2 linked regions of the Homo sapiens genome follow. The protein of the gene in region 2 interacts with the protein of the main gene of each other region in a pairwise test. Each region holds a gene or a part of one and is shown on either strand. Other genes may lie near its edges. The genes, in order: TMPRSS2 and MFSD6.

What was found.
Region 1: the proteins of MFSD6 (region 2) and TMPRSS2 interact in binary tests that used the Homo sapiens proteins (3 or more experiments, as listed by UniProt).

What each region holds. Positions count from the first base shown.
Region 1 is NC_000021.9:41,501,425-41,505,243, forward strand, and holds part of TMPRSS2 (transmembrane protease serine 2), read right to left. Parts: intron 1-3,819. UniProt on the Homo sapiens protein: Plasma membrane-anchored serine protease that cleaves at arginine residues. Participates in proteolytic cascades of relevance for the normal physiologic function of the prostate.
Region 2 is NC_000002.12:190,488,345-190,492,163, reverse strand, and holds part of MFSD6 (major facilitator superfamily domain-containing protein 6), read right to left. Parts: intron 3,508-3,819; coding exon 3,346-3,507; intron 2,397-3,345; coding exon 2,298-2,396; intron 1,551-2,297; exon of another isoform or gene 1,346-1,550; coding exon of another isoform or gene 1,327-1,345; intron 1-1,326.

The sequences.
Region 1 (3,819 bases), on a different chromosome or scaffold from region 2:
ATAGTGAAACCCCATCTCTACTAAAAATACAAAAATTAGCTGGGTATGATGGTGGGTGCCTGTAATCCCAGCTACTTGGGAGGCTGAGGCAGGAGAATCACTTGAACCTGGGAGGCAGAGGTTGCAGTCAGCCAAGATTAGGCCACTGCACTCCAGCCTGGGTGACAGAGAGAGACTCTGTCTCAAAAAAAAAAAAAAAAAAAAAAAAAAAAGAAACAACAACAACATTCTCCAATTGAAAATAAAACAAGGGGGGGAATGTCCCGCTCTGACATTAGATCTGCAAGGGGAAGCACTGCTGTCCCGAAAAGACCAGGAAATCACATTCAGTCCTGTTCATCTTCAAAACAGGCATTTCCTCATTCACACAAGCTTGTACATCGCATTAACTCATTTCTGAAAGGAGCAAGACGTAAAGTAGATGGCGAGAGACAATGCTGTTTAGCGAATGCTTGCTCCTGTCATTTAAAGGACCGGGATGATGGCTCTCAATTCTGGAAAGCCAGCCACCATGAGCACTTGGGGAAATTTTCCTTTAAGTGTGAAAGAGCAACAGTGGGTGGCACTCAGGCTCCATTCCTGGCTGGCAGGGAGCTCTTCCTTCAATACAGACAGTGTCACCCACTTGAATCTCACAATGGCACACAGCTGTCCTCGCACTGTTTTGGTCCATCCTGGACTGAGAGCTGAGTCAGCCCATGAGTCACCTGCCTGGCCACCATGCAGCAGGACGATGCTGTGGCATCGTATCCGCATCCCATGACATGATGAAGTTACTGCCAAAACAAGAATCTTTTCTCCTAGTTTCTCTCCTCTGGAGATCTCAGGACACGTTTACTGGAGACTTACTTTCCAAACAACCAAGCCAACGCGAATGAAGTTAGGCTTGTAGACACTGACTCCCACCCAAGATCCAGGGGTATTCTCTGCAATGAAGTCTCCACTGACCTCACCGTGCACCATTGTGCACACACCTTCTCCTTCTCGAAGCCCCCACCTGTGACTGGTACGGTTCGAGTTGCTGGAGGTGTGAGAGGGAACAGACAGCCTCAGACTCAGTGCCCCTTCTTCAAAATCCAGACAGCACCACCACCACCATCCACGGACACATCCCAGCCAATGACCAAATCATCAAAAAGAGCCCTTTATGCCAAAATAACCGCACTAATATCACATTATACAACGAGATGTTCTATCCTCCTAAGGATAGAATGCATGACTAAATGAGTTAGCCAACAGTGGATTTCAGTGGCTGTTCAGCAGAAACTTGTTTATGTATAATCAGGTAAATTGCATACACAATGATTGGCACAAGAGTTCTACTGAGAGAGAAAGGTTGAGCGAGAAACAGAAAGATCACCTTAGGAGAGGTATTGCCTGCATCATCCAAGTTTCTTTTCCTGTGAATGACTCATTGTCCCAAAGAGATTACAAACTTTTTAGGGCAGATATCAGGTCTGGTTCTCTCTCTTTCTGTTTGTTTTTTAAATCTCACTTTGTAGCTTACAAAGACAGTATTTAAATGTTTTTATGGAGTTCTTACCACCTGTACCCCAAAAACTATTGGGGAAAAATTAATAAGCATGTTTGGCAAAGTTGAGGGATACAAGATCAATATAAAAATCTATGTGTTTTTATATACCAACAACAGACGATCGGAAATGTAAATTTGAAATACAATGCAATTTGCAGGAAAAAATATATATTTTTTGAGTTCCAAAGGCCAAATGAGTAAGATGAAATTTAGCAGAGGGCGATAAGATGCCCACACCCAGACAACACCAGCAGCCCAAGTCAGGACAGTGGGTGACCTCCCAGGAGTCCAGGTGCCTCAAGCTGAGTGCAACCTGGCATGACAGGCAGGCAGGCGGCAGAGGCCCTCAGGTCACTCCAGGCGGAGACTTCAACACCACACACAAGCCACTGGCTGAGGCTTAAAGAACTTGTCCAAGTCAATCTGTAAAATGGGGATGATACAGAAATAGGGTTGTTGCAGGGATTAAGTGAGAAAGCAAGGCCGTAGCTCAGTGCCCAACCCATGGTGAGCACTCAATAATAACATAATGATGGCAGATAAGGTTTATCTTCCAACACGTAAGAGCCGGCTATGTGGAAAAGGAATTCAGTTTATTCTGCATACATCCAAAGGACAATACCAGAATCATGATCAGAATTTCCAGAAGAGCAGGCTTGGATTCTATCTGGGGAAATCAAGGTTCCAACAATTAGAAAGTTCACATATGGCCTGGAGCTACCTTAGAATGTACCGAATTCCTCAAACCTAAAAATGTATGTTTCAAGACTGGAGGATCATTTCTCCAACATATTCCAGAACAGAATTAGGCTTGAGCATCAAGACCAGACATAGTGATCTTTCATATTACTCCCAACTCCTTATAAATGCATCATCACCAGTGAACTTGAAAATGTCAGCAAATTCTCTGTTATCAGTATCTTGCACAAAGAACTCCAAGCCCATCGTCCCTAGAAAGCATGGTCTCCCATGACCCCTGGGCTATACTGCAGTGGGGTCAGGCTGAGTGCCCCGCCAGGACAGCCCCTTGGAAAGCAATGGCCTTAAAGGGAATTTGACACTGCATTGTGCACCTCGTACAAACAAGCAATAATAAAAAGCCTCAGCTTAGTTCCATCTGCCAAGTCAGACCTCGCTTGAAAATATTTTTCTAACAAATCCAATTGTCACAACCTCTCATTCTGAGTCCCACTTGACAGCCCCGATTTTTCCACCTAGTCTGCCCTTGAGTGAACTTCCAGACTTCTGCTGCCACAACCACAAGCCAAGGTGCCCTTCAAACACTTCCTGCTTTCTTACCACAACTCTGTGCCCTAAACTCCTCCTGCCCTCCTGCCATGGATGCCCAATGGCTCAGCGCCATCCACACATAGATGTCAGAGCCCTCACCTCCCTCTCCCAGACTCACCTCCAGGAGGATGAAAAGCCTGTCTTCGAGTTTCCTGCCCTCTCAAACTTCACTCTGTTTACAACAAAAGTAACCACCCACACCCCTGCCAGAAAACCAGCCTCGACTCCCAACCAGCGCATTTCCACTCATTCAGTTCCTCTCTCCTGACCATTGCTCAGCAACCAGGAATAACCAAGTCCCAGATCAGGCTCTGCCTCCTCCTGGAGCCCAGCCTCTGTTCTAGGTCATGCTGAAGAGCTGCCTGTGTGCTCAACCAAGCTGCTACCCTGTCACAGATCCCCCTTTTGCTCCTCCTTGGGTGTCCACAGGCTCGGTGGGGCCAAGGTGGTCAATGGCCATGGGGACATCATAAGCCCCCTTCTTCACACCCAGGCCCATACCCCTGGTGCTTGCAAGTCAGGGCTTCCCAAATCACCCTTAGGGCCAGGAGGGGCCCCACAAAGGCTGACTCCATACAGGCCTCAGCTCTCAGGTACATAATGCTCCTGCACCCCAATCCTGAGGCCACGCAGTGCATCCCATATTGGAGGATCCCCTGGCAGGTGTCCTGGAAAGTAAGGAGGGGCGGGGAAGAGTAGCAAAGGCCTGGTGACTGTGGGATGAGGGACACTCAGGGAGTGCAGAGCAGGAGGGACCAGAGAGCAGAAATGCACCTGGGCCTTCAATGCTCCTGGGCTCTCTGGTTCCCCACAGGGAGCTCTCCCTGCCCTCACTCTCCCCACTAGCAAGGCCACTTTCCAAGTCTTCAGCAACCAAAACTGAACAAGCACTCCATTGACCATTCACCTTTCCTTTCTACCTCAATGTCCAAGGCTTAGATCTGATCAGTGCTCCCCAAACCCAGAATTTTCAAGAGGGCTTAGAAAAATAAATA
Region 2 (3,819 bases):
TTAACATAATCCTAAACTTCTTGGAGGCTTTGTTCATTTTTTAAAATTCTTTTTTCTTTGTCTTCGTTGGATTAATTCAAAAACCTTGTCTTTGAGCTCTGAAGTTCTTTCTTCTGCTTCTTCGATTCTGTTGCTGAGACTTTCCAGAACATTTTGCATTTCTGTAAGTGTGTCCTTTATTTCCTGAAGTTGTAACTGTTTCTTATTTATGCTATCTATCTCATTGAAGATTTCTCCCCTCACTTCTTGTATCATTTTTTTGATTTCCTTAAATTGGACTTCACCTTTCTCTAGTGCCTCCTTGATTAACTTAATAATGGACCTTCTGAATTCTTTTTCAGGGAAGTCAGAGATTTCTTCTTGGTTTGGATCTATTGCTGGTGCTAGTGTGATTTTGTTGGGGCAGGTTAAAGAACCTTGTTTTGTCATATTACTAGAATTGTTGTTCTGGTTCCTTCTCATTTGGGTAGGCTATGGCAGAGGGAAGGGCTGGCACTCAAGGCTGCTGTTCAATTCTTTTGTCCCACAGGGTGTTCCCTTGATGTAGTACTCTCCCTGTTTTCTGAGGGATGTGGCTTCCTGACAGCCAGGCTGTAGTGATTGTCATTTCTCTTCTGGATCTAGCCCACCCAGCAGGGCTACCAGGCTCCAGGCTGGTACTGGGGTTGTCTGCATAGAGTCCTGTGATGTGAACCATCTTTAGGTCTCTCAGCTGGATACCAGCCCAATATTTGGCCTGTCTCTCAGGTCCTCCAGGAGCAATATGCTTCCTTCAGAGGGTCTGTGTATTCTCTCAGCTTTCCTGGTATATTCCTGCAGTAGTTCTGGAGCAAAAGCATGATGCAAGTCTCCACATGCTACTCGGTCCACCTGAGTGTGAGCTGCAACCTAATCCTGCCTCCTATCTTGCCATTTTCCCAATAACAGTCTCTCCAGAACACAAGTATTTTAAAAACTAACCCAGTACCATATTCTCACTAATCAAAGATGAGTTAAAATTTGATTGCTTATTTTTATGTTTCTTACATTGAATGTTTAATTAATGATTTTAAATTTTTTTGTGATTAATAGCAAAGATATTCAAGTCCATACATTTTTCTCAAAATACAACTTTAACTACATCTTATAACTTTGGGAGAGCCATGATAGTTATTTTTATTGGTCTTTTACATGAGGCATGGACTGAGGCTGTGTAAGAGAGAGAATCCATTTAGGATTATAAAAGAACAAAAGTAAGAAAAAACAGTATTGCTCTTTCTGAGTAACTCATTGAGATTAAAATCTGTCTCTGAGGCTTCTGTAACAAGCAAGTTTTTCTCTTCACAGAAGCATTTCAGGGGCCTGAGGCTAATGCTCCGCAAAGGATAGGACACCCAAAGAAGATGAGCTCTGTTCTGGGACCAAAAAACTGAGCAAAAATATTTTCATCCTCCTGGTTGACCTTTTTCATAAAAAGTTGAGTCAGCTCATTCTCATCTACATATTAATATTTGATATAACCTCCTTTTGGTAGAACAATCTTAATAAAGGCATCCCTGGTTCAGAGAAAACTTCAGATTTCAGGTCTTGACATTTTTGTCTTTGTTTTTTGTTTTTTTTTTGAGAGGGAGTCTTGCTCGTTCCCCCAGGCTGGACTGCAGTGGTGCTATCTCGGCTCACTGCAAGCTCCACCTCCTGGGTTCACGCCATTCTCCTGCCTCAGCCTCCTGAGTAGCTGGGATTACAGGCGCCCACCACCGTGCCCGGCTAATTTTTTATATTTTTAGTAGAGATGGGGTTTCACCGTGTTAGCCAAGATGGTCTTGATCTCCTAACCTCGTGATCCACCCGCCTCGGCCTCCCAAAGTGTTGGGATTACAGGCGTGAGCCACTGCACCCGGCCATTGTTTTTTTTTTTTTTAACAAATGAAGGTAAGTCATAGAGAAGATTACCACTCACTCCCTATCCCTAGTAGCAAAATGACTGTATAGCCTTATATGTATTTGACTTAAATTTGAAAAACCTTTAGAATACCAGAGAAATTGAAAACTAATACTTCCCTAGTACCTTGTATTATAAAAGAAAACAAACAAACAAAAAACAAGAAAACCCCAAGCTACTTAAAACAATATTTTTTCTGCATAGTAGGTGGATCTCTTTAACAATAGTCCACATGAATTCATCGATACGCCACTCAGAAAATTGAGCCAAACAGACCTGTTGTATACTCTGTACCACTTCTAGGCTTCTCGGGGCATTTGTTGACTTCCCATGGCCTGAACTGTTAGGAATATTAAGAAAGAATGGAAATAATTACCTTCTTCCTCATCTGGCACTGCCAGCCACTGGATCAGGGCAAAGAGCAGTAGGATCACCAAGCAGGCCATGCCAATTCCTCGGAAGGTTGCAGCAGCCCCTATAAAAACAAACAGCACTCTATAGAGTAATTCCAAGAAATGCAGATAGCGCTCATCTAAAACCATCAGTTTTCTAAAGATCAAAGCAAAGGAAGCACAGCTTGAGACAAACCAGAGAAAAGTAGTTGGGTATTAGCTCCACATAATGGAAAAACACAGGGCTGGGTACGTGTCAAGAGACCCAGGGCTGATATTGGATCTGTCATTGATCGATTATAAAACTGCATTTATATAGGATTATCTCTCAGTGCCTTTCACCATGACTCATACAATTCAATGGTGCTCTCCTCTTCATATGAAAAGACCATTTACCCAATTATTAACTAACAGCACTATTAATCTGTAGTTGGAACAGCAGTGCTCAAATAGTGCTATAAATGCACGCATTTCCTGGGGCCCACCTTATATATTAATAGATGACTGAGTAGTTAAGATTCCTGGAGCAGAATAATCTCATTCCTATTTCAGCTCCTATGTTTCTAATAAGGAAGATATGACAAGACAGACAGATATTGTTACCATAAATGTAGTAGCATTACCAAAGCCAGCATATGGTTAGATTCTTCTGGTTCAAAATCTCCTAATGGAATAACAATGATGAATTTTATTTCCTTTAGGGTTATTATCAGCAGGTTTAAGGTACCTTATTTTAGACCAAAAGCACTCATGCTAATTCATTTGTTTGGCTCCTTTGAGGGATCTCTGTAGCATCTCATTAAGCTGATTGTCAGAGGAGTGTGCACAGTTACAGGCTGGCTCAGATCAGCTTAACAACGTAAGCACACTGCTTTACAATTATGACTACCATGAAATCTAGAAAGAGATTATGAATACTGGAATTTAGCTTTGGGCAATCTTCAGTAATAATTGGATTGTTTATTGAGGTATTGCTGGAAAAAATCATGTTTTAATAATAGAAAAGAAAAAAAAGGAGAAAGCCATTCTTACCAAAATAATTGACTAACACGCCTCCGATCATGGCACCACATCCTCTTCCCAAACCCAGGTGAAGGCCCTGCAGGATGCCCTGAGCAGATGTCCTCAGCTCAGGGGGAACGGCTGCACTGAGGTAAGAAATGCATGCTGCCCAGATGGCCGCGTGTGTCACTCCTGGAGAGGAAGAAGAGCAGGAGGGATTAGTTGGTTAGCATTTCTTAGGCTACTCTGTTTTGAAATGTGAATTATTTAACTAGGCACCTATTTTTAAGATTTGTTGTGGGAAAACATACATTAAAAATTTACCATTTTCACATTTTTAAATGTACGGTTCAGTGGCACTGAGTACACTCACAGTGTTGTGCAGCTGTCACCACCATCCATCTCCAGAACTTTTTCACCACCACAACAAAAATTCTGTACCCCTTAAACCATAACTTACACTCACCCCTTGTCCCATCCCCTGACAACCACCATTCTACTTCC